4 linked regions of the Homo sapiens genome follow. The protein of the gene in region 1 purifies or fractionates together with the protein of each later gene. This does not show direct contact. Each region holds a gene or a part of one and is shown in the gene's direction. Other genes may lie near its edges. The genes, in order: NPC1, BRI3BP, PON2 and TMEM192.

Region 1 (7,123 bases):
TCCTGCCTCAGCCTCTTGAGTAGCTAGGATTACAGGTGTGTGCCACCACGCCCAGCTAATTTTTTTTTTTTTTTTTGAGACGGAGTCTCGCTCTGTAGCCAGGCTGCAGTGCGGTGGGGCGACCTCGGCTCACTGCAACCTCCAACTCCCTGGTTCAAGTGATTATCTCACCTCAGCCTCCCGACTAGCTGGGATTACAGGCATGCACCACCACCCCCGGCTAATTTTTGTATTTTTAGTAGAGACGGGGTTTCACTATGTTGGCTAGGATGGTCTCGATCTCCTGACCTCATGATCCACCCACCTCAGCCTCCCAAAGTGCTGAGATTACAGGTGTGAGCCATCACGCCCAGCCTAATTTCTTGTTGCCCAGACTGCAGTGCAATGGCGCAATCTCAGCTCCCTGCAACCTCCGCCTCCCAGGTTCAAGAGATTCTCCTGCCTCAGCCTCCTGAGTAGCTGGAATTACAGGCATCCACCACCATGCCTGGCTAATTTTTTGTATTTTTAGTAGAGATGGAGTTTCACCATGTTGGCCAGGCTGGTCTTGAACTCCTGACCTCAGGTGATCCACTTGCCTCGGCTCCCAGAGTGCTGGAATTGCAGGCATGAACCACCGCGCCTGGCCAATTTTTGTATTTTTAATTGAGACGGAGTTTCAGCATGTTGGCCAGGCTGGTCTCGAACTCCTGACCTCAGGTGATCCACCTGCCCCGGCTTCCCAAACTGCTGAAATAATAGGCGTGAGCCACCGTGCCCAGCCCCAATATTTTTTAAAATAAGAAACAAAATAAATAAAATCACAGATTGCATTTAGGTACTTCCATACATTGCTGGCTGCAATTTCTTTGGAGGGCAATTTGACAACAATCAAAACTTAAATACCCATTTCCTTTGATCCAACAATATAAAAGTATTTCCAACAGTTCTATTTGCGCATGATTGCAAAGATTTACATCCAAGAATGGGCCAGGAGTGGTGGCTCACGCCTGTAATCCCAGCACTTTAGGAGGCTGAGGCAGGCAGATTGCTTGAGCCCAGCAGTTCAAGACCAATCTGGGCAACATGGTGAAACCCCGTCTCTACAAAAAATACAAAAATTAGCCAGGAGTGGTGGTGCACAGGTGGGAGGATCGCTTGAGCCCAGGAGGTAGAGGCTGCAGCGAGCCATGATCATGCCACTGCACGCCAGACTTGGCAACAGAGTGAGACTCTGTCCCAGAAAAAAACATTTTTAAAAGATACAAGGATGTTCATTGCATCATTTCCAGTAACAAGTGACAAGCTAAATGCCCAAGAAGAGACTGATTAAATAAGTTACATAGTGGATCAAAAATTATTAACGTAAGTATTTCTAGCCTTCCCCTACCATCTGCCAGCTACAGATAATTTAGTCTTGGGTCAACTTTCTCCTCTCCCTCTACAAGGGAAATGTTCAAAAGTGTTTAGACTTTGGTGATGCAGCATGATTGGGAAAGCAGAGGGCACAGAAAGATGCCAGGCTTTGTGGTCTCCAGGCAAGCTCAGGAATGTGACAAAGCATACCGAAAAGAAAAGCGGGCTGGGAGCAGTGGCTCACGCCTGTAATCCCAGCGCTTCAGGAGTCTGAGGCTGGTGGATTGCTGGAGGCCAAGAGTTAAAGACCAGCCAGGCCAACATGGTGAAACCCCATCTCTAATGAAATCCAAAAAAAAATTAGCTGGGCGTGGTAGCGCACACCTGTAATCCCAGCTACTCGGGAAGCTGAGGCATGAGAATCTTTGGAGCCGGGGATGTGGAGGTTGCAGTGAGCTGAGATCATGTCACTGCACTCCAGCCTGGGAGACAGAGCAAGACTCTGTCTCAAAAAAGAAAAAAGGAAAAGGAAAGATAAATTTATAATGTATTGCCAGGACCACACAAACCCTTCATATGTACCAGGAATGCAAGTAGAGGAATTGAGTTATTTTGAAATACTTGTTGGCTGGTGATTTATATTTCATTGATTTAGACACTGCTCTGAGTATGGCTTCAGAAGTGTTACATACGCATAATAAAATCCTTTACAGCTATTAAAAGGAGTGAGGTAGGAAAGCATACTGCTAAAAGCAAAGAAGCCAGATGAGAACTGTGTACTGTACATCCCCACTTGTTTAAAACGTTTGTATATTATATTCACATATGTATGCTTTCCACTACATAGAAGTTTTCTGGAAGGTATTTCTGCACATTTATAAAGATGCACATCTAATAATTTCATTTCCCCCCATTTTCTACTTATTGCTCTGAGGTCAACACTGAATAGTCCTTATGAAGATGGTATTGAATATTCTTTCAACAAAAAAGTCTCCGGATCTCAACTACTGGAGCTCAGAAAACGATACCCCAAAGTAGGAGGCTTTGGCATGCTAAGTACTTTGAACTAAAGGAGATTAGGTCTCAGTAGCAGCCTCAGAAACAAAGTCTACCCATGACTTTCTCCTGCCCTCCTGTCTCCAGCGGTCTTGCACCCCTGAAGTAAGTCACAGGAACCAGAATTCTTCTTCCCCAAGGAGGGTTATGGAAACTTAGAACCTTCAAAGTAATTTATAAACTTGGAAATCTTACTGTAACATTTTCTTCTACCTCTCTCTGTCTTTGAGACAGGGTCTTGCTCTATCACCCAGGCTGGAGTGCAGCAGCATGATCATAGACAACTGTAGCCTCCTGGGCTCAAGCAATCCTCCTGCCTCAGCCTCCTTAGTAGCTGAGACTACAGGTGTGTGCCACTATGCCCAGCTAACTTAAAAAAAATTTTTTTTTTGTATAGAGGGAGTCTTGCTACATTGCCCTGGCTGAGAATTTACATTTCTAACAAGTTCCAAGGAGATGCTCCTGCTGCTGGTCTGGGGATGGCCGTTTGAGGATCCCTGCATGAAGGCATACACAGGACTTGATCCTCAGTGGGGGCACCAGGAGCTGGAGCCTGGGGAGTGGGAAGCGAGAGCACAGAGCTGACTGAGGACCACGAGGTCGTCGTGGAGGACCTAGGCTGAAGGTCCTGAAGAAATCCCCATAGTTTCACTGCCAGGCCAGCCAGGTGGACATCTCAGGGCTGAGGAGGTGAGAAGGCAAGACAGAAAGTGAAACAGCACTTTATAGGATAGGGATGGGAAGGTCATCTGCATCATGGGACTCCTTGGGGAGGGGTTCGGTCATTGCTCCAGATGAAGGTTTAGTCTTTTCATCGTAAATTTGCTTTCACTGTTGGGAAAGAGATCTTCACCTCCATTTTCTTAACTTCAAAATGGAAATGACAGATGCTTTTGAGTGGTCTGAATACTTGAAATTTGAGGGAAAACGTTACCAGAAACACATACAACTAGAGTTAAAGATAAATACATATATCAAACGCATGGCTCAAAAATGACAACGCGTCTTCTTTATCTGCCTTCACGTAGAACTTAAAACAGACCCTGGTCCCCACCTCGGGGTTTCCTCGCGCCCACGGGCTGCGCTGCGCAGCTGGGCCAGCAGGTGGCGAGGCTCCCGCACTTTTTTTCCCGGGCCTGGCCGCACCGCCACCGCCCACCCCGCGCTCCGCCCCGCCCCGCCCCGCCGCACTCGCGGATCGTCACACGGTCAGGCCACCGCGCGTCACCGCCCCGGGCTCTGCTAGAAAGTGCCGGGGTCCAGATTCCTTTCAGGTGACTGGGTTGGGAGGAGAAGTCGCTCAGCGTAATTGTCGGAGCCGAAATAAACAGAGACTCCGCGGCCGGGCGGGACCTTACCCGGAAGTCCCCCAGAACAGCACTACCCTTCGCTGAAACCTCGCCCGCCCCCTCCAACCCAGAGACGAAAAGGGAAAGCATCACGGCCAGAAACCGTTGGCACAACTCCACAGATACTCTCCCGGGCCGAGCCAGACTCCATAAGTCCCGCGCCTGGCCCCCGGGGATTGCAGGGGCTGAGGAGAAGGGCAACACGGGGACCTTGAAGCGGGGTCGCGGCGGCGCCCCAGCCCGGGCCAGGGAGTCCCGGCAGCGGCACCTCCCAGAAAGGGCGGAGCCGACGACGCCTTCTTCCTTCCTGACCGGCGCGCGCAGCCTGCTGCCGCGGTCAGCGCCTGCTCCTGCTCCTCCGCTCCTCCTGCGCGGGGTGCTGAAACAGCCCGGGGAAGTAGAGCCGCCTCCGGGGAGCCCAACCAGCCGAACGCCGCCGGCGTCAGCAGCCTTGCGCGGCCACAGCATGACCGCTCGCGGCCTGGCCCTTGGCCTCCTCCTGCTGCTACTGTGTCCAGCGCAGGTGAGCGGTCGCCGGCCACCGGGACGCCCTGTGGGGACGTGGCGGGGCCGAGAGCCGGGGAAGGCGACGGGCCCAGCGACGGCTCAGGCCCGGGTCCTGGGGAAGTTGGTCTGGCGATGGAGAGCTCGGAGGTTCCTCACTTGTCCTGTTTCTGTCTCCGGCCACGCTCTCTTTCCTGTGGTCTGGAAGAGGGTGGCAGTGGGGGCTTGGGTGACCTGTTCTGAGCTTGTTCCATCTGTGGTCACCTAATTTCTCTGTGTAGGATGTGGCACCAGAAGAAGGGAGGAAAGTGGGTAGAGTGGGATAGGGACACTACTTGCTTTTTAAAAAATTCTGCTACATGCGCACGAACTCCAAAATTTAGGAGCTCTAACCACTTTATTTCCTCTTCTCATCACCTGAGGATGGAGGTGGAAGCAGAGGTAAAGAGACACAAACTTCCTCAAGCACCCGGTGAAACTGCCTTGAGTACTTGACATAAGTCAGCTTGGTCTTCTAAAGAGGGCAGGTTACTTTTCATCAACTCCTTTTTACACCTCAGGACACTGAGACTCACAGGGCGGTATTGAATTTCCCCTTGTCACTATTAGCCAGCGACAGGATGGGGCCTGGAACTCGGTGTCCTGCTGACTCCTTCTGGGGGCTTTTGCTTGGTTTAATAGCTTTGGGAAAGAGCACCTCAGTATTTGTGTGTCTGTAGTTTCCTCTTTTAAAACTGGAGTGGGGCAGTGTCACGCTGTGACTCGTTAAACCAAATCAGGATGAGAGTGCCTCCGGGGAATTGTGTCCTTGTGCACATTAACGCCCCTCACATAGGTGTGGCGTCAATAGGAAGTGGTGAATCAGGGGAGAGGGGGTTCCGTGGACTAGAAAAAACTCTCCTTCGACTTCTATTTAGTTCTCAGAAGGGGATAGGTGATGTTGATCCAATAATGGACTAAGAGCCAGGAGAAGGGCTCCGCGGGAGGATCTCTTGAGCTCAGCAGTTCAAGACCAGCCGGGGCAACATGGTGAAACACCGTCTTAAAAACATTTTGTTTTTCTTTTCATTGTTGAGGTTGAGGCTGCTGTGAGCTGTGATCACGCCGGTGTACTCCAGCCTGGGCAACAGAGCAAGACCCTGTGTCAAAACAAAAAAGAGAGAGAAATAAATAATAGCAATTATGTGCCGTAGAGAAAATGTGGCTATTCTGTTTCCCTAGAGTTTTTTAAAATTTATTTTTAAAATTTATTTATTTTAGAGACAGGTTCTTGCTCTGTTGCCCAGGCGTGGGGGCAGTGTCGCCATCATAGCTCACTGCAGCCTGGAACTCCTGGCCTCAAGCAGTCCTTCCACCTTGGCCTCCCAAAGCACTGGGATTATTGTGAGCACCACTCCTGGCCCCTCCTAGAGTTTTAGATCAGGACCTTAAATAGGCTTCCCTTTTTTTTGGAGACAGAGTCTCTGTTGCCCAGTCTGGAGTGTAGTGGCGCAATCTCGGCTCACTGCAACCTCTGCCTCCTGGATTCAAGCAATTCTGGTGCCTCAGCCTCCCAGGTAGCTAGGATTACAGGTGCCCACCACCACGCCCAGCTAATTTTTGTATTTTCCGTGGAGATGGGGTTTCACCGTGTTGGTCAGGCTGGTCTCGAAATCCTGACCTCTAGCGATCCGCCCTCCTCTTTTGGGGATTACAGGTGTGAGCCACCTCGCCCAGCCAGGCTTCACATTATTAAGTAGCCATCTCTTAAGTATTTTTTAAATCTCAAGTACCCAAGGCTGATGGCCAATGAGTGCTTCTTTTATGACATTTGGGATAGGTCAGAGGTTTGTTGTAAGTCTCTTGCAAAAATGCCTGGAGGCCTTTTCAAGGTCTGTAAACCTTAACTGGAAATAATCCTATTATTATTTTAAAAATTCCTCATGTCTGAAAGCTTTCAGTGCACCTGAACAGATTGGGGTGGAGCCATGAAGCCAAACAGATTGGGAGAGAGAGTGTGTCTGCTTTTAGAATTCGTACCGATGATAGCAGCTCATTAGCTTCAGTCTGAGCGCTAGTAGAGTTCTATCATGGAATTATGGACTAGTTGTCCTGTGTAAGATCTGAAATACATGTTGGGGGGATTTTTGCTTTTTCTTAATGTTCAATATGTACAGATGATGTAATAACATTACTAGACTGCCTTGTTTTTAAAACCCTGTAGTCATCTAAAAACTATATGCAGTTTTGAGACATAGCCTTTATTTTTCCCGGCTGTAATTTTGGTAAGCTTTATCTTGAGGGACTTGGAACATAGAGAAGCCTGGGTAGAAATTAAGCATTAAAATGGCTTTTCCTCAGAAGACTGGGAATGGTTAATCTTTTGACCTGTGAGTGATTAAGAACAACCATCTGAAATTGGAATGACTGTGGGAAATCTTTCCCCATCTTTCCCACTCCTTGACTGATGCTGTGATCAGAAATTTTACTAACATAAGTAATCAAGGGGAAAATGAGATTTTTTTAAATTTGAGCCAGTGGGCAGAGGGAAAAGGACTCGCTGAATAGGCCTTTGTATTCCTCCAGTGTTTGTTATATTACCCAGAACAAAGAATCACTCTGGTCATGAAGACAGTGTGCTCTCTCTTTCCTGGGTAACCCTCCACTCCTAAAAGGGATGCAGTATTCTAAGCATGGCAGATTACCTACAGCGGAAGCCTGGATCAGTCATCTCTGATCTCGGGTGCCCCTTTCTGCCCTTTGACCTCCAGCTCTGTGAAGGGCATCAGCTCTCCAGTCAAATTGAACTGCTTGCTAGCAAAATCCTGCCCATCTTCCAGGGCCCCATTTCACATGCTACATTATCTACGACATTCTTGTCCTGTTCCCCTAACTAGAAT
Region 2 (7,639 bases), on another chromosome or scaffold:
GCCGGACCAGCAGAGCAATCCGAAACCCAGCCCACGTGGGTTCCCAGACCACCAACTCCGGCCGTGAGACTTCCGGGTTGTGTTATCGCGAGAACTGTAACTGACTTTGCCGCTGAGGGGCGGGGTTGCAAGAGAAACCCAGCGAAGAGGAGAGGCGGAGCCGGGCCGGGCAGGGGGCGGGACTATTTAGAGAAGTAGGCGGGGCCTGAGGTCCCAGCGGAGGCCGGAGTTTAAGTCCTGGGCTGTTCTCGCTTGGGGTAGTCTGGGTTTAAATATGAATTATATCTACTGATACTAATTTGGCTTCTTGGGAGTGGAAGTGTTTTGCCACCTTTTAAAATATACCCCGCCCCCAGTACTCCAAACTTCTTCCCCCCAACCCTGGTTTGCGCATCTGTATTTTCTGATATTCCTACAAGAAACGTATTAGTCGTGTACTTTTAAAAAGGCACCAAATATTTCCATCACAGGGATAGATGGAAGATCTAAAAGGAGGCCTCTACGGGCGCGGTGGCTCACGCCTGTAATCCCAGCACTTTTGGAGGCCGAGGCGGGCGGATCACGAGGTCAGGATTTCAAGACCAGCCTGGCCAAGATGGTGAAACCCCCGTCTCTACCAAAAATACAAAAAAAATTTAGCTAGGCCTGGTGGCAGGCGTCTGTAATCCCAGCTACTTGGGAGGCTGAGGCAGAGAATTGATTGAACCCGGGAGGTGGACGTTGCAGTGAGCCGAGACTGCACCACTGCACTTCAGCCTGGGCAACAGAGCTAGACTCTGTCTCAAAAAAAAAAAAATAAAGTTGTCTATTACATAACTTTAAATTCCCATTACCGCATCACATTGTAACACACTGGGAAACAATGCATTATTATTATTATTGAGACAAGGTCTGGCTTTGTTGCCCAGGCTGGAGTGTAGTGGAGCAATCTCGGCTCACTGCAACCTCTGCCTCCCGGGTTTAAACGATTCTCCTGCCTCAGCCTTCCGAGTAGCTGGGACTACAGGTGCCCGCCACCACCCCCAGCTAGTTTTTGTATTTTAGTAGAGACGGAGTTTCACCATGTTGGCCAGGCTGGTCTCAAACTCCTGACCTCGTGATCTGCCTGCCTGGGCCTCCCAAAGTGCTGGGATTACAGGCATGAGCCACCGCGCCCGACTTTTTTTTTTTTTTTTTTAAGAGATGAGATCTCGCCCTGTGGGCCAGGCCAGAGTGCAGTGGTGCAATCACCACTCGCTGCAGCCTTGACCTGTCCTCCCACCTCAGCCTCCTGAGTAGTTATGACTACAGGCACACACCACCACGACGGGCTAATTTTTCTATTTTTTTGTAGAGATGGTGTCTCCCTATGTTGCTTAGACTGGTCTCAAAATTCTGGGCTCAAGGGATCCGTTTGTCTCGGCCTCCCAAAGTGCCGGAATTACAGGCATAAGCCACTGTGAAGGCCTTAATGAATGACGTTTAAAAAAATCATAATTAGCGTATCAAATCTATGGGGTTTTTTGTTTGTTTGCTTGTTTTTGTTTTTTTGAGACAGAACTCTCCCTCTGACGCCCAGGCTGGAGTGTAGTGGAGCAGTCTCGGCTCACTGCAACCTCCACCTCTCGGGTTCAAGCGATTCTCCTGTCTCAGCCTTCCAAGTAGCTGGGATTACAGGCACCCACCAAGATGCCCATCTAATTTTTGTATTTTTAGTAGAGATGGGGTCTCACCATGTTGGCCAGGATGGTCTCAAACTCCTGACATCAAGTGATCGGCCCACCTTGGCCTCTCAAAATGATGAGATTACGGGCCTGAGCCACTGCACCCAGGCTCAAATCTGTGTTTTTATGGATTTTGTTGCTCAGGATGATAGTGATCTAAAGTTTCTTCTTTAAATATGTTTATTTAAATAAATTAAAAGTTTAAGAAACGTTTAAAAAATGTTAAGTAGGTAGTAGTACACTTGCCTATATTTCCTTCTAAAATATAATATATCAGTGAATTACCTTCCAGAAGGTATAGACCATTCTAGACAGCAAGAAGAAGGCAGATACATAACAGCATGGATGGATCTCACAAATATAAAGTTGAACAAAAGCTGGGCGTGGTGGCTCACGCCTGTAATTCCAGCACTTTGGGAGGCCAAGGCAGGCGGATCACCTGAGGTCAGGAGTTTGAGACCAGCCTGGCCAACATGGCGAAACCTGTCTCCACTAAAAATACAAACATTAGCCGGGTGTGGTGGCGCGTGCCTATAGTCCCAGCTACACGGAAGGCTGAGGCAGGAGAATCGCTTGAACCCCGGAGGCGGAGGTTGCAGTGAGCCGAGATCATGCCACTGCACTCCAGCCTGGGCAACAGAGCAAGACTCCGTCTCAAAAAATAAAAAATAAATAAAAAAAAAAGTTGAACAAAAGAAGCCAACCCCCAGAGTACTGTGTGGTTCATTTACATAAACTTCAAACACAGGCAAATGAATCCCCTAAATTTTAAGAGGAACATAGTGAATGGGAGGGGACAAAGGGAGGCTTCGTGGGGGAACTGGTAATGTTTCGTTTCTTGATTTGGGTGCTGGTTACCTTGGGTATTCAGTTTGTGAAAATTCATAAAAATTTATATGATTGTGTATTTTTCTGTATGTTATACCTTAATTAAAAAGTTTATTATTATTATTATTATTATCATTTTTTATAGAGATAGGTTTCACTATGTTGGCCAGGCTGGCCTCGAACTCCTGTGTTCAAGCAATCCTCCTGCCTTGGCCTCCCAAAACAAGCTTGTGCCACTACACCTGGCGTAAAAAAAGGTTTTTGTTTTGTTTTGTTTTGTTTTTGGGACGGAGTTTCACTCTTGTTGCCCAGGCTGGAGTGCAGTGGCTTAGTCTCGGCTCACTGCAACCTCCGCCTCCCAGGTTTAGGCGGTTGTCCTGCCTCAGCCTCCCGAGTAGCTGGGATCACAAGCAGGCACCACCATAACTGGCTCATTTTGGATTTTTTTTTTTTTTTTTTTTTTTTTTTGAGACGGAGTCTCGCTCTGTCGCCCAGGCTGGAGTGCAGTGGCACGATCTCGGCTCACTGCAACTTCCGCCTCCCGGGTTCACGCCATTCTTCTGCCTCAGGCTCTGAGTAGCTGGGACTACGGCGCCCGCCGCCACGCCCGGCTATTGTATTTTTAGTAGAGACGGGGTTTCACTGTGTTAGCCAGGATGGTCTCGATCTCCTGACCTCGTGATCCGCCCGCCTCGGCCTCCCAAATTGCTGACCTTGTGATCCGCCCGCCTCGGCCTCCCAAAGTGCTGGGATTACAGGCGTGAGCCACGGCGCCTGGCCTCATTTTGTATTTTTAGTAGAGACGGAGGGATTTCTCCATGTTGGTCAAGCTGGTCTCGAACTCCCGACCTCAGGTCACCCGCCTCAGCCTCCCAAAGTGCTGGAATCACAGGCGTTAACCACCGCACCCGACCTACAAAAAAGTTTTTAAAAAGATAAACAATACAGGAAAAAATGTGCAAAGGATATGAATAGGTAATTCACAGAGAAGTAATTCAAATGGCCAATAAATCTATGAAAATCTTACTAGGAATCCAGAAAATGTAAATTCAAAAATAAGAGCATTTTGTATTCTTTGGATTGGCAAAAATTGAGTTTTATTTTCTTGGTTGTCTAAAAAAAATGTTGGTTAGACTTGATTTGTTTGATTTAGGATGCAAACAGGGTCCTTGCATTGCATGGGTTATTATGGCTCTTAAGTCTTTAAAACCAATTATCCTCCTCTTCGCTCACCTTTTATACCAATTATTTATTGAACAAACTGGGTCGTTTGTTTGGTAGAATGCCCCACATGCTGGAGTTGGTTGGTTGCTTCTGCTGCTTCTAAGTTTTCCTTATCTGCCATATTTCCTGTAAACTGTAGGTTTGATCTAGAGGCCCCATCAGGTTCATGCTCAACTTGTCTTGGCAAGAATCCATCGCAGGTGGCGCTGGTACTTCCTGGCACTAAGATCGATTGGCGGGACCGGGACTTCGCGGCTTAGCCCCTCCATTTTCAAGTTCCCCGCCAAACCCTCCCCTCTTGGTTGTACCCATTTCTGATGATCATCGCGTGAATCCATCATTCTATTGAGGGGTGCCAAATAATTTTCGGATTCTCTCATTCATCCTCATGTATTAGCTGGACTTTGTAAAAGAAAGTCCCTCCCCAACTATTTTGGGGCTCTGAAATACAGTTCATTCAGGAAGGGCAGGAGGATGCCTGATGCTTTCTTGTTATTTAAAATTTTCAGGATGAATGAGCTGATGCCCACGAGGGCGAATTTTGGGGTACCATTATAATACATTCAGGGAGATTACATATATGTCTATTTCATGTTTTTCAATCAGTTGCAGTCACTTTCCTGGTTGAAGCTGTTGCAAGTTTTACAGGCACGGGTTGCTTTTCCACGGATAAGTTAAAAAAGAGAATTTTTTTTTAAATGATGAGAAGCCGCACCGGGTCGGGGCAGGCTTCCGGGAGGCGGGCGCGGGGCCCCGGGGCCGGGTCGCGTTGGTCCCGCGCCGGGGGCGGGGCGCGGCGTGGGCTGGGCCGTGCGCCTTTGCGCGCGGGGCGGGGCAGGTGGCGCAGCAGCGGCGGCGGCGGCTGTGGGTAAAGGCGCGGCGCGCGGCCCCCGAGCGCGCCAACCTTGCCCTAGCCGGAGCCCGCTGCGGCCCAGCGCACGGCCCTCACCCCGCATCGCGACCCCGCGCCCCGCCGGCCGAGCATGGGCGCGCGCGCCTCAGGCGGGCCCCTGGCCCGGGCCGGGCTCCTGCTGCTGCTGCTGCTGCTGCTGCTGCTCGGGCTGCTGGCCCCGGGCGCGCAGGGGGCGCGGGGCCGCGGCGGCGCGGAGAAGAACAGCTACCGCCGCACGGTCAACACCTTCTCCCAGAGCGTCAGCAGCCTGTTCGGCGAGGACAACGTGCGCGCCGCTCAGAAGGTGGGCGCCGGGCCCGCGCCCGCGGTCACCTTGCCCCGGTCGCCACGCACCTGGCTACCGGGGCCGACCTGGGAGGAGCGCGGCCTCCGGGGCTGCCCGCCCGGCCAGCGCGCGGGAAGAGGGGGTCCGGCCTGCGCCTCGGGGCCTGCCGCCTGCGGCCCCCGCCGGGCCTGACCAGTGCGGGTCTGGGCGGCCGGGCCTCGGGGCGCCCTCTCCTCTGCGCCGCGCTTCTCCTTGGACCTTGCCTCCGCGGTCGGCGCAGCCAGAGTCTCTCCCGGCTGCGCTGACGCCTGCCGCGCGTCTCATTCATTCATTCACCGCGTTTGAATGGCTCCTACTGTGAGCCAGGCAGCACACTGGCGCTCTCGGTCCCCACGCGGCTGCGCCCTCCCCAGCTACCCCGGGTTTGTCCTAGCCTCGCATCCCGACCCACTTCCCCTGGGACCTTCTGCCCCACTCCTCCTCCTGCTTTGAAGATACTTGGAGTTGTTTTTACTTTACAGGAAAAGAAGGGAGCAATGCGATTTGCTCGGTGGCTTTGGGAAACCGAGCACCTACTGTGTGCGGGGCCTTTCGCGTGGAGCCTTTTGTTTAGTTTGGGGAGGTCCCGGATCCTGCAGCCTCCTGGGAAGGGTGTTGAGTCCCAGGAGGATCGCAGGGGGTTTTCCCCAATTCCTGCTCTCTGGAGCTAGGTGCGATAGGGGTGCCATTCCGGGCCGAAGTCCGCCGACTAGCTCTTGAGAAGGAGGAAGTTACTGGGGACAGTTGTGTGTGGTATTGCGGTTCCTTTGCTGTTCCCTGGGGAGGAGGGGGCTCTTGCTTGCCGCCAGCCTTCCTGGGGTTTTGGAGTCAGAGAAGTTTGGGTTCAAGTTGGAGCTCTACCAGTTGGATGACTTTGGGGAAGTGACTTCACTTCTTTGAGCTTGTTTCTTTATTTGTTAAATGGGGATAGTAATCATTCCCCTTCATTGCGAGGTTGTAATTATGACTAGTTGGTACCTTCCTGGCCCAGAATCATGGCTAAAAAGTTAAAGTTTTCTGCTCATTGAGAGGGAGTGGGGAATAGAAGGGAATATGAAGGCCGAAATCAGATTGACTGCATGTTCTTACTGGATAACATGAAAGGTTAATTTGTTAGGAAAACAGTAAGTTTTGACCTCCCTCTCCTGTGGGCAGGGGCACCTCTTGCACAGGTGGGTCTGTGTCTTCATACATGTAGGGGAGAGAACGCTTTGTAGGTGGCCAAAGAGGGGCAAGGAAGCAGGGCTGAACGCCTGAATGTGAAAAGGTTGCCCTGGAGTCTGGCGCGGGAAAGGATCAGGGGTGTGAGTGCAGGGAGTCTCACTTACTTCCTCTTGATGCCGTTTCGGAGCTATTTGAAGGCAGAAATCATTTGTTTTAGAGCAAAAATAAGCCTGTCTTTTTCACGCAGGGTGACCACAGGATCCCCATGTCTCAACTGACGGTGGTTCCATGTGACAATCTAAGGCCAACAAACATGAAATACGAGTGGTTATTTAAGACTTTTACTTAAATAAGACAATCTGTATTCTGGCAGAGCATCTCCGAATCTGGGGGTCAGAGCTCTTCCTGGGCTAAACCGGGGTTTGTGCCTTTAATAGAGATACTAATGATTACTAAGTGCTTTTGTAGATAGAATAATCTTATGTAATCCTTAGAATGACCCTGTGCAGTAGGTACTGTTACTGTTCCCATTTGACAGATGAGGAAACTGAGACACAGAGCAGTGAAGTGGCTGGTTTCAGGTCAGATGAGTGGCAGAGCCAGGATGTGAACCTAGGCAGAGTGGACATGGAGCCCACATTAGTATCTCTCGCCTGTTTTCCTGCTTCATGACCCCTTCCCTGTTCCCCGAGTCAGTACAGCATCCAGAGGCTGACCTGACTTCTTTCCTTTTTGTTTTTTTGAGACGGAGGTCTGGCTCTGTTGCTCAGGCTGGAGTGCAGTGGAGTGATCTCGTCTCACTACAACCTCCACCTCCCAGGTTCAAGCGATCTTCCCCACTCACCCTCCCAAGTAGTTGGGATTACAGGTGTCCACCAGCATGCCTGGCTAAGTTTTGTATTTTTAGTAGAAAAGAGGTTTCACCATGTTGACCAGTCTGGTCTCAAACTCCTGACCTCAAGTGATCCTCCCGCCTCGGCCTTCCAAAGTGCTGGGATTACAGGTGTGAGCCATTGCACCTGGCCTGACTTATTTTATTTCCTGCTGAGTGTAGCCCACACTGGCCAGGCTTGGGGATATTGTTTTGTTAATTTTATGGGTTTTTTTTTAAATTTAATTAATTAATTTATTTTTTGAGACAGACTCTTACTCTGTCACCCAGGCTGGAGTGCGTTGGCACGATCTTGGCTCACGGCAACGTCTGCCTCCTGGGCAAGCAATTCTCCTGCCTCAGCCTCCTGAGTAGCCGGGATTACAAGTGAGTAGCCGGGATTACAAGTGAGCACCACCACATCCGGCTAATTTTTTATGTTTTTGGTAGAGATGAGGTTTCATCATGTTGGCCAGGCTGGTCTCAAACTCCTGACCTCAAGTGATCTGCCGACCTCAGCCTTCCAAAAGTGCTGGGATTACAGGCGTAAGCCACCGTGCCCAGCCTGTTTTGTGAATTTTAAATAAAGGAAAACTGGGTCTGCCAGCAACTGTAGTTTTCAGCATGCCTGG
Region 3 (8,050 bases), on another chromosome or scaffold:
TGTAGTTGTTACTTCAGCAGACCCCTTCATTAAGCCTGTTTCATTAAGGCTTCTAAAAGGAGTAGAACGTACGGTTCATTCATGGAGAACTACAAACAATGCTGCTTTGGACAATGGAAAACGTGCATGCATTTCCTAGAAGAGGATGTAACATGTCTTTACTTTTTCCATAGAGTTCAGCCCATCCAAAGTCAGCCTCACATGGAGGTTGGGGAGTTTTTGTATCTTTCTCTTCCTGCTCCCCTCTTTTCTCCCAGTGTTTTCTTCCTCTCTGTCCTCTTCCCCAGGGTTCAATGGCTCCTGGAAGAGAGGCAGCAAAGCCTATAGCTCTCCAAATAAATAGGCTTGGGTCTCATGGGGACAGGCAAGCCAACTGGCCTAGACGTGAAGTTTACAAAGAGCCCTAAATGTTGACTTTCAACATTATCTCACAATTCATTTATTCATACATCACAAAGATACAGTGACACAACTGAAAAAACTCATTCATTTTAAACTTGAGTTCCATGACTGGACCACTCTTCCTATAGCAAACCAGGAATAAATATTTTTTATGAATTGCATAATTATTTTGTAACTAGCACATTACATTGTATTTTATCTCTGTTTATGAATTTGACCTCTACAAACAAGTTAATATCATTCAACCTATTATTTGAAGATGTTAATTTGTTGAACATAAATATTAAAAAAAAACTTTATGTTTCTGTTATGCCATTTCTTCACTTTTTAATATGTTGGAATTCTCAGAAAACGGCCTGGCTGTGGGGAGGTTTCCTTTACTCTTTGAGAAGCCACGGAGTGAGGCATCTACAAGGCAAATCTTTCTTTTGCTGATAATAACCATCTTTGATAGCATCCCTTCAATGCATTTTTGTTCCCTTTTTAAAACAGAAGTAAGGAGAAGAAGGGATAAAAGGAATATGGAGGGCCGAACTCCCTGTCACATATTATATAAAATTACAATAATCACGAGTCACCTATTTCACAAATTACTGTGAGCGTTACAATTAAGAATACACTGCAAAGAACTTTAAAGAGTTAAAAGTACAATTATGAAAGGCAGTGTGCTCCAGGGACCATTTCAGTCTGTGAACTCTTTGTTTCTGGTCCATGGCTAGTTAAGTATAAAAAATTGAAAGTAAGCATTTAGAAACTGTTACAGAAATTTGACAAAGTAATTTTATGTCTGTTGAACCAAATAATAAAAGATTTGGGCTTGTATTTTGTATGTCTGGTTTTTTTACTTCCTCTTCCAGTAAGTCATTTTCATTGCATTTTACAAAGGCCAAGAAAAACCTGTCCTTCACTGCACATAGTTTGAGAAGCACTGATAAAAGGTATTATTATTTCTGAAATTTTGCTTAAAAAACCACTTAATAACCACTAAATAAGTCAGAAGTCATTATTTGAGAAATACTGTTTCATACCAAGTATAAGGAGTTGCCAGCACACAAGCAAGTTCCAGAACAAGTTTGTTTTGTATTGAGTAACTTGGTTATTTGGTAGTCAGAAACCACTTTCCCCAGGAAACAAACGTAAACCAGGGGTTATGTTCTTGGTGTGGCCTATACATCCTAGTTATCTCAAAAGACAGCTAAACTATACTATACAATGTAACAACCACTATAACATTCTTACAATGGTTTCTGATTTCCAAATTAGAAAATACGTCTCATCTCCATCCCCATGTGAGGAATGACAATTCCAGCCCTAGCATGGTGGTGGGGCTGGGGGTAAAGATGGATACTACTTCTGCAAAAGTTGCTTCAACCGCAACATTCAGAAAGAGAAAGAATATGGGGGTAGAAGATTCCTCACACAGATTATTGGGGGAACTCACTGGTCATGTTAATAAAGTTAAAATAAGGTTTCCATTTCTCTTGATTCTCTGAGGGTGAGCTTAGGTAGGTTTTGGTGGACTTGAAAGTCCTGGCTCATTATCACAAATGCTTCCATGCTAAATCCCAAGGTGTTGTTCCTCCTGACCACCCAGCACCAAGATGGCAAACAGGTTTCATCCTGAACTGAAATCTGTTCCCTAGCTCAGGGATTCTTATTTCCCTTTCGTTGTTGTTTTAAAAAATTGTGAGGACAAGTCTGGGTGTGATGAGACACTTTGCCAAAATCAATTAGTGACGCCTACCATGGGCCAGGGAAGAAAGGAAAGTCAGCACAAAAGCTGGTTTTGGTTGTTGTTGTTGTTTTTGCTATCCTGAGACTAGCCTAAAAGATGTAGACCTCCAACCCTTTAATGTCACCTGGAACCAGGTTGAAGAACATGACTATTAAGAACATGACTTTTTTCTTTTTAAAAAATTGGGAATAGCAAAAGGGAAATAGACAGAGAATAGCATATACTTGGATATTCTTATTTGCCATCTATGTGGTTTCCTCATTTTGCGGAACTTGTGGAAAGACACGGTAGCCTGGCTCCTGACCCAGAATCCATGAGGCATAGTTGTATGTACTTCCCTTGGGGCCTAAGAGATTAAGAGAGAAGCCCAGACAATAGTCCAAGGCCCTCTGCTTTAGGTCTTTCTTCTAAATTCTGATTCTTTAATTTTTTTTTTTTGTTAATTTTAATTTTTTTTTTGTAGAGATGGGTTCTCCCTATGTTGCCCACAATGGTCTTGAACTCCCCGCTTCAAGTGATCCTCCCACCTGGGCCTTTCAAAGTGCTGAGATTATAGGCAAGAGCTACCTTGCCAGGCCTAAATTCTGATTTTGTATCTGAGGCTCTTCTCTTCCTCAATAATTGACACCAAAAATAGTCCTAGAAAGGAGATTCCACCCTTCTCTAAACAGTCATAGCCTTAGCCTATGTCAGAGTTCTTAACCCAGTGGTCCATTGATAGTTCAGAGGAATTAATGACCTTGGATAAGAAAAAAAAAATCTTGATTTCAAATGGAATTTAGCATTTTCTTCAATTACAAAACTAGCAGACAAACCTCAGAAGCATTTGCAGTACTTGTGACTGTTACTAATGGAAATAACAGTTATTTTCATTATTTCATTATAGTTGTTTTCAGTATCATGAAAGAACATTTGCACTCCTCTTTATTTAAAAGAATGTTGCTAGATCTTGTTATTTAATATGTTAAATAATGTTGCACACATTACATTACCACATTACTATAGCAAAAAATTATGTTTTAGATATTTTAACAATTACATTTCAATTGTTGACCTTTAATTTTAAAGCTAAGGCAAAATTAATGTAAGTAGAGAGTTTATTTGGGCCAAGTTTGAGTACTGCAACCCAGGAGTATAGATTCAAGTTTCCCTAAATATACACTCTGATTAGCAGCAGTTACACATAGATTTTTAAGGGGAAGGAAGAGGCAGTTCCTAAATTCCTTGCGTTAAAATAACATAAGCTGTGGATTGGTTATACTTTGTTCTTTGTATCATAAATTCCAGGAATATGAAGATAATGGGTGGGACAGCTACTCGGGAACAAAATGTCTTTAAACAACTGTCCCCAGGCATGGGTATTGGGGCGTGACTGAAGTCCCATACTCATGTCGCTCTGGGCCTGATAAATTTTGCATACCTCACAAAGCTCAGACTGCTCTCAGCTATTTTTTTTCCTTACAATGTAATTGATTTTCTTTGCAATCTATACATTTTATTCATTTATTTAAAATTTTTTTTTCTTCTTTCTTTTTTTCATGAACCGCACAGAGAAAATTTATGCATTTTATTGTAAGCATTTATAAACATTATTCTAAGAAGTTATCCACAGGCTCACCACTGCCAGAAGGGTCCACGACACAAAAAAGGTAATGCCTCATGGGCTTTCAAAGGACAACTTTTTACTTCTCTTTCTACCATCCAGTATAATCCAATATCCTTAGGACTGAAGCAGAGATACACACACACACAGGGAGAGAGGTGTTTGTGCTTTTTTTTTTTTTTTTTTTTTTTGGTGAGAGGCAGGTGGGAAATTGGCATCCACTTTTATTTACTGGTTCTTTATAAAACTGATATTTGTTGAAAATTGTCAAGTGTGACCATTTCTGCCTACATATTGTAGGGTGGCAATTAAATACCGAAAACCATTAGAAGCTTATTTCAGATGTACTCATTTATTGTAATGGTATCAATCTTGATGGGTAAATTTCATTTTACTTTTAAAATTGTATTTTAAATTATTCCTTCATGTTACGGTTGTTAGAGTAAAAACGGAAAAGAAAAAAACTACACTTCTTCCCTTTGAGTTTGGATGAAAAAGACGTGTCTAAGTCCTTAAGTCTGTAGTCTGGAAGTATTAATAGAGGCTGGGCATGGTGGCTCATTCCTGTAATTCTAGCACTTTGGGAGGCTGAGGCAGGAGGATGGCTTGAGTCCAGGAGTTTGAGACCAACCTGGGCAACACAGCAAGACTCGGTCTCCACACACACACACACAGACACACACACAACTTACACACACTTAGCTAGGTGTAACGGTACGTGCCTGCGGTCCCAGCTACTCAGGAGGCTGAGGCTGGAGGGTCCCTTGAGTCCGGGAGGTCCAGACTGCAGTGAGCTATGATTGTGCCAATGTACTCCAGCCTAGGCAACACAGCGAGACCCTGTTAAAAAAAAAAAAAAAAAGTATTACGAGGCACAGGATGTTTATTTATTCGCAACTACGTCCTGTTATAAAAAGTAGTGATTCCAACGTGAAATATTTACACGACGCATCCCGTTACTTTCCCTCCCTTGGCCACCGACCCCCATCCCCAAAAGCTGCTTTCTATGTAAGTTTCTCACTGGAATAGCGAGTGAGAAATGTGTTTGAAGACTAGGGAAACGAGAAAGGTATGCGGGCTGCTAGAGGGTTTCGGGTGGGTTGTTTGAAAAAGGAAGTGAAGGAATTCAAAGTTTCACATCATGAGCCTAATGTAAGGCGTGTCCGGGCCGTCCCGAAGGTATCTGGGGAAATAGGTTTGTGAGGACAAAGACCAGGGCCAGGCCCAGGGCGGAGCCTCCGCGGCCCCGACGCAGGGACTCGGCCTAGGCGGAGGACGGGGCGGAGCGCGGCCGGCACCATCGAGCCGGGAAGATGGCACCGCCCACGGAGCTGCTGGCCAGGCCGGAGCGAGGCAGCGCGCCCGGCTCCCGCGCCATGGGGCGGCTGGTGGCTGTGGGCTTGCTGGGGATCGCGCTGGCGCTCCTGGGCGAGAGGCTTCTGGCACTCAGGTAGGTGGGACTCCCGCGCGCCCCTCCTCGGCGGTCCCCAGGCTCGGGGTGGCCGCGTGGTGCGGGGAGGGCGCAGGCTGGGGGAGGGATTCCTGCGGGACCTGGCCCTGCGGCCGGGGGTGGAGAATTTTTGAATGCTGTCCCTCCCCCAGCTAGTTGAACCCCCATCACCCCGACTCTCCGCTTCTAGTGAAAAAACTAGCAAAGTTTGGAGTGAATCGCGACACTTTCTTGAAAGTTTATAAGCCCTTGCTGCTAACAAAGTTCTCTTCTGCTTAGGCTGACAAGAGAATGCTTTGCAATTACCCAAGGGCCAAACTAGTGGTTTAAATTGAAAACAAAATGACTACTCATGCATTGAAACCTTAACTATGAAGATTTATTTCAGGTCATTGGTGCTGTTTCTCCTTGTTGCCCAAACCAGACCCGTCTTTAATAAAGTTGTTCTCCACCCATTTCTGCATAGTTTGAGAAACTCTTCAGCTGTAGATCAAAGACACTTGAAATATTCAGCTACTGTTCTTACTTCCTATTTATTCACCAGGGAAGCCTGAAGCCAGAATGCCAGACAGCGCAGACACTATTCCATCTCGCATTTTAGTTTTAATGAAAATCTCTGGTAGGTAGACATCATCGTTTATAAATTACCAACTCAACGTTTGTTTTTTGTTTATTTTATTTTTTGTAGAGATGGGGTCTTGCTGTATTGCCCAGGCTGTTCCCTAACTCTTGCACTCAAGCAATCCTCCAGCCTAGGCCTCCCCACAGTGCTGGGATTACAGGTGTGAGCTGTTCTGCCCTGCCTCAACCAAAATTTTATAGGCCTCATGCAAAAGAGTTCCAGAAAGACTGAGCACCTGCTATGTGTAATGTTCTCTCTTAGGCTTCTATAGTAGAGTACGACCCTTATGGAGTTTGATACAGGGGAAGAGAGAATTAAAATACAGTAAATGTATAAATTAGGATGTTCTAAGGACAGACACAAATGAACCGCATAGGCTTAAAGAGGAAAGATTCCATCCCCTGAGGGTGGAGTTCTAGAGGGAGGAAGAGACATTCGACCTGACCTTGAAGGGTGGGTGCAACACATATGAGCATGAAGGGGCCCATGCCAAATGTATAGTGCAGCAGGAGCAAAGGGGCTAAGGTGGGAAGTTGGAAGACTAGCAAATGGGCCAATTTGAAGGGAGCATAAAGTCAGGAGATGAGAATAGTAGGGTGGTGGGAAGGATAGGTTTTGAGGCCATTAAATATAAGTTGAAAAATGGGGCCCCACTTTCATAGGCCCAATAGTGCTTCAAAAGGGAAATATTGGTGGGTTTTGCTTTTCAACAAGAACTTAATATAACTAGTTGTGTTTTATAGAGATAAGCCTGGAAGGGGGGATTGGAGGAGAGCAATGGTTCTCTGTACATTAGAATCTCCTGGAGGGCTGGTGTCTGAGTGGCACCACCAAAGATTCTGATTCAGCTGTTCTGGATCAGAATCTACAGCTCACACCTGTAATCCCAGCACTGTTGGAGGCCTAAGCCAGAAGATTGCTTGAGCCCAGGAGTTAGTGACAGGCCTGGGCAACATAGCAAGATCCCACCTCTACAAAATGAATAAATAAATAAATAAATAAATAAAAAACAAAATTTGAGTTGGTAATTTATAAACTATGGTGTCTACCTACCAGAGATTTTTCGTTATAATTAAAATGTGATATGGAATAATGTATTGTTTGGCAAGCTGGCTTCAGGGTTCCCAGGTAAATAGATAAATAAGGAAGTGCATAATGTAAGAACAGTGGCTGACAGTAGCAGTGGCATTTTTTATTTTTAAAAACATTCCTGATAATTCTAATGAGCAGTCAAGGTCGAGAACTACTAGAATAGAGAGCAGACATGGGGTAACTGGTTAAGGTATTGCAGTAGGTCAGAGAGGATAACAGGGACCCAAACTCTGGAACCCCAGGGATGAGGGAGAAGTCAAAGGTGCTACCAGAGTTTGTGCCACAGCTCCACTGTCCCATGGTTGTAGTTTCATCTACTGATAAAGCAGTGCAAAGAGGAAGCGTGTGGTGGCTGAGATGGGAGTGAGATTTGAGGAAAGAACGCTTATGGGTAGGAAATGGACATGTTGACCTTAATTTTCATGTTAGGTAATGCCCATTGTGCTCTACAGAACATTCATGAGTTGGATGACTTTGTATATGATCTGTCCTGCTCTCCATTTCAAAGGCAAGACCACCAAAATTCACAAGCTTATTATGTTGTCACTAATGTGTAAGCCACCAGTTTTTCTGCAAGTTGGAAGTTTTCTCAACAGTCAAATATTCCCCCTTCTCACTAATCTTAAGGTTTTAAAGTTATAGCTGCAAATCTAAAAAAAAAAGAAAAAGTAAATAAAACTTATTGACAGAATGCCTGATAGTTTATTTACAGGTTTTTGTTTGTTTGTTTTTTGTTTTTCTTTGTTTTTTATTTTGACACAAGGTCTTGCTCTGCCGCCCAAGCCAGAGTACAGTGGTACATCAAAGCTCACTGCAATCTCAAACACCTAGGCACAAGCAGTCCTCCCTCCTCAGCCTCCTGAGTAGCTGGGACTACAGATGCATGCTACCATGCCCAGCTAGTATTTTTATTTCTTGCAGAGACAGGGTCTCACTTTGTTGCCCAGGCTAATCTCAAACTCCCAGCCTCAAGTGATGCTCCTGCCTCAGCCTCCCAAAGTGGTAGGATTATACACATGAGCCACCACCCTCGGCCTACTTTACAATTTGATGCACCTTTTCTTTACGTGACTGTGATGCACTTTAATGGGCAGTGACTTTATAAAATGGTAACTTTATTGGATATGTGGAGCCCCAAATGGGCTG
Region 4 (7,248 bases), on another chromosome or scaffold:
AAAAACAAAAGATACACCCATGAAAAGGAAAACAATACAAGGCAGCATAAGAAATATTCCAAATGAATATTATGGGCAATAAGTTTTATAGGATTTTAAAGCAGAAGGAAAACACTTAACAAGGCCAGTTTTATAGAGAACATAAACTTGGTTAGGACCTTGAAAGATGCATAGAATTCTGAAAAAGGTAAGGGAGGATATTTGTAGGGCTCTATAGAAAGCTCATTTAGGCGAGAGAAGAAGGTGCATGAAAGTGACATATTAGGAGATAAAGTAGATTATTGTCTTATAGTGAAGTTTTCAATGCTAGCTTTGTTTAAATGTCCCAGGTCTGGCCAGGTGCGGTGGCTCACGCCTGTAATCCCAGCACTTTGGGAGGCTGAGGCGGGTGGATCACCTGAGGTCAGAAGTTTGAGACCAGCCTGGCCAACATGGCGAAACCCGGTATCTACTAAAAATATAAAAATTACCTGGGCATGGTGGCACATGCCTGTAATCCCAGCCTGTGGTCAGGAGGCTGAGGCAGGAGAATTGCTTGAACCTGGGAGGCAGAGGTTGCAGTGAGCCAAGATCACACCATTGCACTCCAATCTGGGCAACAAGAGCGAAATTCTGTCTCAAAAGTAAATAAATAAATAAATAAATAAAAATTTCCCAGGTCTGAAGCATACAAGAAGTTGAGCAGTCTTTCTTTCTCTCAACACGCATATTGAACACCTTAGCATCTGCTGTGTATCAAGTGTTAAAAGCACAAAGGACATAATATAAAAGAGTCTCTGCCCTTGTAAAGCACATTTTATTCTGACAATTTCAATGCCATGTGCTTAGTATGGTAGGTTATGATACAGATACAGATGTAAGAGAGTTCAGTAGGGACTTCCATTCCCAGCCAACATGGAGTAACTGGGAATAGATATACCATTCTGCCTGAAACAACCAAAAAGCTAGATATAACGTATGATACAACACTTTGTGAGATACCGGACATCAGACAATGAAGGGTAGCAATCTCAGAGATGGGAAACAAATGCTGTGAACCCTATCACTGCTCCGGCTTACTGCCTTGAAAGAGTGTGCAGGCTGTGACAGGGAAGGGGGAAGCCAGGCAGAGCCCAGCAGACTTCTGAGTTGAGGAGATGGAGTTGAGGGTCTAGGAGATCGAGGTAACTGGAGTTCACAAGACAGAGCACCCAGAGAGGAGAGAGCTACAAAGAGGGAGAACTCTGAAGATATGCACGGGGAGCCCCCTGGCCCTGCGCCTACCAGGCATCCAGTAGAGTGCTAATCAGGGCATGAGGAAGCTCTTGGAGGCCTCATAAAGAACCACCTAAAAGGATTGGAAGGAACAGTTTCTCCATACAGGGCCAAGAATACTGCCTATTTCACCCACAAGCCAGACGGAACCCTCATAATTCACAGAGCATGTAGGTAGAGTACTCAGAAAGGTCTTGCCTCAGTAGTGGAGGCCTTAGATTAGCCTTAGATGAAGCCCACCTAATTTCTTAACAGCAAGACTGTTTCCAAGTAACTTGACTGCACTCCAGAACAAAGTTCACGAATATAGGATTACAGAAAATGGCCGGGTGCGGTGGCTCATGCCTGTAATCCCGGCACTTTGAGAGGCTGAGGCGAGCGGATCACGAGGTCAGGAGATCGAGACCATCCTGGTTAACATGGTGGAACCCTGTCTCTACTAAAAGTACAAAAAATTAGCCGGGCGTGGTGCTGGGTGCCTGTATCCCAGCTACTTGGGAGGCTGAGGCAGGAGAATGGTGTGAACGCAGGAGGCAGAGCTTGCAGTGAGCCGAGATCATGCCACTGCACTCCAACCTGGGTGACAGAGCAAGACTACATCTCCAAAAAAAAAAAAAAAAAAAAAAAAAAAGGGAATACAGAAAATACCCAGCACCCACAGAGGTAAAATTTGCAATATCTGGCATCCAATAAAAAATGACAAGGCATGCTAAGAGGCAGGAAAATGTGAGCTGTACTGAGTCCACTGAAACTGATTCAGACATGACATAGGCTAGAAATAGCATGTGAACATTAAACATTATTATAAATGTCTTCTATATATTTAGAAGTTACATAGAGACATGGAAGATACAAAGTAGACCCAGCTCAAACTTGTACAGATGAAAACTACAATGTCAGATTAAGAGTGCAGTAGGAATGATGCTGGGGCTGGGAATGCTAAAAAGGCACCGCAGAGAAGGCGGTTTTGCTGGGACAAGCATTTGACAGGTGGGGAAGAATAAGTAGAGCTGGTGTAGAGATGGAAAGTGTTTCATGAAAGACGGGTATCATAAGCAGACGGCACCAGGAGGGAGGGAAATGGTGAGAGGCAAATCCTTGGCCAGGCGTGGTGGCTTATGCCTGTAATCCCAGCACTTTGGGAGGCCAAGGTGGGTGGATTGCTTGAGTTTTGGAGTTCAAGACCAGCCTGGGCAACATGGTGAAATCTCACCTTTACTAAAAATACAAAAATTAGCCAAGCATAGTGGAGTGTGCCTCTGGTCCCAGCTACTCGTGAGACTGAGGTAGGAGGATTTCTTGAGCCTGGGGAGGGGGGCACGGAGGCTGCAGTGAGCCGAGATCGTGCCACTGTTCTCCAGCCTGGGTGACAGAGTGAGACCCTGTTTTTTTTTTTGTTTTTGTTTTTGTTTTAAAAAAAAAGGTTGGGTACAGTGGTTCACACCTGTAATCCCAGCACTTTGGGAGGCTGAGGGTGGACCACTTGAGGTCAGGAGTTTGAGACCAGCATGGCCAACATGGTGAAACCCCGTCTCTATTAAAAATACAAAAACTAGCTGGACAAGGTGTCGGGCACTTGTAATTCCAGCTACTTGGGAGGCTGAGGCAGGAGAATTGTTTGAACCCAGGAAGCAGAGGTTGCAGTGAGCTGAGATCATGCCATTGCACTCCAGCCTGGGGGACAGAGCAAGACTCTGTCTCAAAAAAAGAAAAAAAAAAGAGAGAAAAAAAATCCTGAGAAGTTACTTGGGGACAGATTGTAAAGCGATAGACTAAGAATTTGGACTTTGTCCTGAGGATTTGGGGATCGTATTAGGATTATCCAGAGGGACAGAACCAATAGGATATATGTATATATAAAAAGGGGGTTTATTAGGGAGAATTAGCTCACAAGATTACACAGTGAAGTCCCATGATAGGCCACCTGCAAGCTGGGGAAAGGGAAGGTGGTAGTGGCTCAGTCCAAGTTCAAAAGCCTCAAAACCAGGGAAGCCAACAGCGCAGCCTTCAGTCGGCAGCCGAAGGCCTGAGAGCCCCAGGCAAGCTGCTGGTGCAGGTTTCAGAGTCCAAAGGCCGAAGAATCTGGAGTCTGATGTCCAAAGGCAGGAATTAAGGAGGCAAGCATCTGACGCAGGAAAGAGAGAGCCAGAAAACTCAGCAAGCTGCTTATACGCCTATTCTGTGCTTTGTTCTAGCTGCATTGGCAGCTGATTGGATGGTGCTTGCCCATATTGAGGGTGGGTCTTCCTCTCCCAGTCCACTGACTCAAATGTTTGGCTCCTCACAGACGATACTTTGCCATCCATTTGACACTTAATATTGACCATCATAGGGAGCTACCCAAAGTTTTTGAGGAGAGAAACACGAATGTTTGTCTTGGAGCAGTGAAAGAGATTGCCAAGACCAGAAGACTGGAAGCTTCTAATAAAAGGCCATGAGAAATGGGAGGGCCTGGACTAAGATAGTGAGAATAGAGAGGAAATAACAGGTTTAGGAGTTAGAATGGTAATGATTTTTTCTCTTTTTATCATGCCCCAGCACTGAGTGGATAGAATGGTAATGATTATAGGGGTAGTGTCTTTGTTTGGGTTGCTATAGTAAAATACAAATAGGGTAATTTACAAATAGAAATGTATTGACCACAGTTCTAGAGGACAGGAAGTCCAAGATTAAGGCAGCCACGGATTCAGGAAGCCCAAGATCAAGGTGCCAAGAGCCCTGGGGAGGGGTTGCTCTCTGCTTCAAAGATGGCGCCTTCTTGCTGCATCCTCACGCAGTGGAAGGTGGAAGGGAGCTCATTCAAGCCTCTTTTATAAGGGCACTGATCTCATTTATGAGGGGGGGAACCCTCATGGCTTAATTACTTCCCAAAGGAAAGCAGGGAACTATTGGGGGACACCAACATTTAGACCATAGCGGGGTGCAAGTCAAAAGTAAGAGTTAATAAAAAGGCCAAGTGTGGTGGCTCACACCTGTAATCCTAGCACACTGGGAGTGCACTTGGGAGGATTGCTTGAGGCTAAGAGTTCAAGACCAACCTGGCCAACATAGCGAGACCCTGTTGATTTTTATTTTAAAATTTAAAAAATATTAAAAAGAGAAAAGAGTTAATAAAGAAATAATAGTGGCTAATACTTATTGAGTGCTCTCTGTGCGTCAGGCAGTGTCATGAGGACTTGCATGTGTAGTGACTCATTTAGTATTCCTGACAGAGCTACGAAGCAGGTGCTATTATTAGTCTCCTTTTTAGATGTGGAAACTGAGGCATGAGAGATGAAGTAACTTGCTCTCAGCTAGAAAGCGGTAAAACTTGTGCTTGAATCCAGGCAGTTTGCCCTTAGGAGCCTGACCTTAACCACAGCTCTTACTGCCTTTGGTCACAGTTGATCCCCCGTATGTCCTGATAATCTCTTCTAATTAGCCCAGGTCTTTGATGATGCCCATAATTGAATTAGAAAATACTGCAGAAACAGGTTTGGGGCACTCATTCATTCATCTAGCAAATGTTTGCTGAGTGACAACCATGAGATAGTGTTGAGTGCTGGGATTACAAAGACAAGAGGTGTAAAGGTAATGGGTCCAATGACGTCTAGTGGAGAAGAGATAAGTAAGAGACCATCACAGGATAGTTTGATAGAAGAGGCAAGCACAGAATGCTTTGAAAAACATGGAGGGTGGCACAATCCAGATTAGGGGTATCCAGAAAGGCCCTGTGGTGGGAATTGCCCCTTCTGAGCATGAAAGAATGCACAGACATTAGCTAAGGGAAGAGCAGATCTCAAGGCTCCAACATCTGCTGACTGAGAATGAGCTAGAGGCAGAGGGGTCTTGAAGAGAACAGGAGTAATCTGAATTGTACCATGAGTTATGGTAAACTAAACAGGAAGCAATCTAGGCATTGAATAAAAGACTTGGCCAGGCGCGGTGGCTCATGCCTGTAATCCCAGCACTTTGGGAGGCTGAGGCAGGCGGATCACCTGGGGTTGGGAGTTTGAGACCAGTTTGGCTAACATGGCGAAACCCCATCTCTACTAAAAATACAAAAATTAGCCGGGCATAGTGGCGCGTGCCTTTAATCCTAGCTACTCAGGAGGCTGAGACAGGAGAATCGATTGAACCCAGGGGGCAGAAGTTGCAATGAGCCGAGATTGAGCCACTGCACTCCAGCCTCGGCGACAGAGCGAGATTCCATCTCAAAAACAAACAAACAAACAAAACAACAAAAACAGTTGCAGAGCAGTGTTGAATACCTGCTACTGGAAATTGAGGAGCCCACTCCAGAGCTAGGTTACACCCTAGATTACTGTCCTTATCTTTGTAATCTTAGCAATCAACAGCCATCTCTTACATCATTTGTCCTACTACCTACTTCCAAAATAAAGAGCTCTCATTCTGTGTAGCCAAAACCTATTCATGAATCCTTCATTTCTGTCTCATTGTAGTGCAGTTAGCTGACCTAAATTTTTTGGCATTGTCTTCTATGCTTTTCATTTGCTGATTTGTTATGTGCTTCCCATGAACCATATTCTTTTTTTCTTTTTTTTAACATGTGATGAGAACACTTAAGATCTACACTCTTAGCAAATTAAAAGTATATACAATGCAGTATATATCCATATTTTTGAGACGAAGTCTCTCTGTCGCCCAGGCTGGAGTGCAGTGGCGCAATCTCGGCTCACTGCAACCTCCACCTCCTGGGTCCAAGTGATTCTCCTGCCTCAGCCTCCCGAGTAGCTGGAATTGCAGCTTGCGGCCAAGAGTTCAAGACTAGCCTGGGGCCGGGCACTGTGGCTAATGCCTGTAATCCCACCACTTTGGGAGGCCGAGGTGGGTAGATCACCTGAGGTCAGGAGTTTGAGACCAGCATGGCCAACACAGTGAAACCCTCCCTCTACTGAAAATACAAAAATTAGCTGGATGTGTGCCGGGCACGGTGGCTCATGCCTGTAATCCCAGCACTTTGGGAGGCCGAGGCAGGCGGATCACCTGAGGTCAGGAGTTCGCGACCAGCCTGACCAACATAGAGAAACCCCATCTCTACTAAAAATTAAAAATAAAAAATTAGCCGGGTGTGGTGGTGCATGCCTGTAATCCCAGCTACCCCAGGAGGCTGAGGCAGGAGAATTGCTGGAACCCGGGAGGTGGAGGTTTCGGCGAGCCAAGGTTGTGCCAGTGCACTCCAGCCTGGGCAACAAGAGTGAAACTCTATCTCAAAAAAAAAAAAAAAAAAAATTAGCTGGGTGTGGTGGTGCACACCTGTAGTCCCAGCTACTCAGGAGGCTGAGGCAGGAGAATTGCTCGAACCTGGGAGGCAGAGGTTGCAGTGAGCCAAGATTGCGCCGCTGCACTCCAGCCTGGGCAACAGAGCGAGACTGTCTCAAAAACAAAAAACAAAACACAAACAAACAAGACCAGCCTGGGCAACATAGTGAGACCGTGTTGCTACAGTTTTTAAAAAATTAATTAATTTTTTAATTAATTAAATTAAATTAATAATTAATTTTTAAAAAATTGGATTCAGGTAGGCAATGTGTTCTCTTGCCTTTAATTTGTATGTGGTTAAAAAGCTCTGTAGTTTAGTAGATTTGTCTTAGAAACATAATCTAGAAAGTGGTGATTATAGGTTGCTTGTTTTTCTGCACCCCAGGGTTCCTTGGATATCACCCAGAGTATTGAAGACGACCCACTTCTGGATGCCCAGCTTCTCCCACACCACTCATTACAAGCTCACTTTAGACCCCGATTCCATCCTCTTCCTACAGTCATCATAGTGAATCTTCTGTGGTTTATTCATGTAAGTTGGCTGCAAGAAGGGGACCTATCCAGAGGTGATGTTTGTAAAAATTATATAAGTGTTTCAGAGGGCAGTTGTGCTGTATCTATCAACATTTAAAATGTAGGGCACATGTTCTTAGGACATCCTGAGTGCTGTGTCATGGGCAAAAAAAAAAAAAAAAAAGTACGTACACTTTTACTTATATCTTCAAATAATTC

Evidence for each region.
Region 2: the proteins of NPC1 (region 1) and BRI3BP purify together in Homo sapiens (affinity purification with mass spectrometry; 2 studies listed by BioGRID and IntAct, with this or other methods). This does not show direct contact.
Region 3: the proteins of NPC1 (region 1) and PON2 purify together in Homo sapiens (affinity purification with mass spectrometry; 3 studies listed by BioGRID and IntAct, with this or other methods). This does not show direct contact.
Region 4: the proteins of NPC1 (region 1) and TMEM192 purify together in Homo sapiens (affinity purification with mass spectrometry; 2 studies listed by BioGRID). This does not show direct contact.

The regions. Positions count from the first base shown.
Region 1 is NC_000018.10:23,583,427-23,590,549, reverse strand, and holds the start of NPC1 (NPC intracellular cholesterol transporter 1 precursor), read left to right. Parts: upstream 1-4,043; 5' UTR 4,044-4,206; coding exon 4,207-4,263; intron 4,264-7,123. UniProt on the Homo sapiens protein: Intracellular cholesterol transporter which acts in concert with NPC2 and plays an important role in the egress of cholesterol from the endosomal/lysosomal compartment.
Region 2 is NC_000012.12:124,989,053-124,996,691, forward strand, and holds the start of BRI3BP (BRI3-binding protein precursor), read left to right. Parts: upstream 1-4,592; 5' UTR 4,593-4,738; coding exon 4,739-4,951; intron 4,952-7,639. UniProt on the Homo sapiens protein: Involved in tumorigenesis and may function by stabilizing p53/TP53.
Region 3 is NC_000007.14:95,432,018-95,440,067, reverse strand, and holds the start of PON2 (serum paraoxonase/arylesterase 2), read left to right. Parts: upstream 1-5,039; 5' UTR 5,040-5,116; coding exon 5,117-5,190; intron 5,191-8,050. UniProt on the Homo sapiens protein: Capable of hydrolyzing lactones and a number of aromatic carboxylic acid esters. Has antioxidant activity. Is not associated with high density lipoprotein.
Region 4 is NC_000004.12:165,102,750-165,109,997, reverse strand, and holds part of TMEM192 (transmembrane protein 192), read left to right. Parts: intron 1-6,901; coding exon 6,902-7,048; intron 7,049-7,248.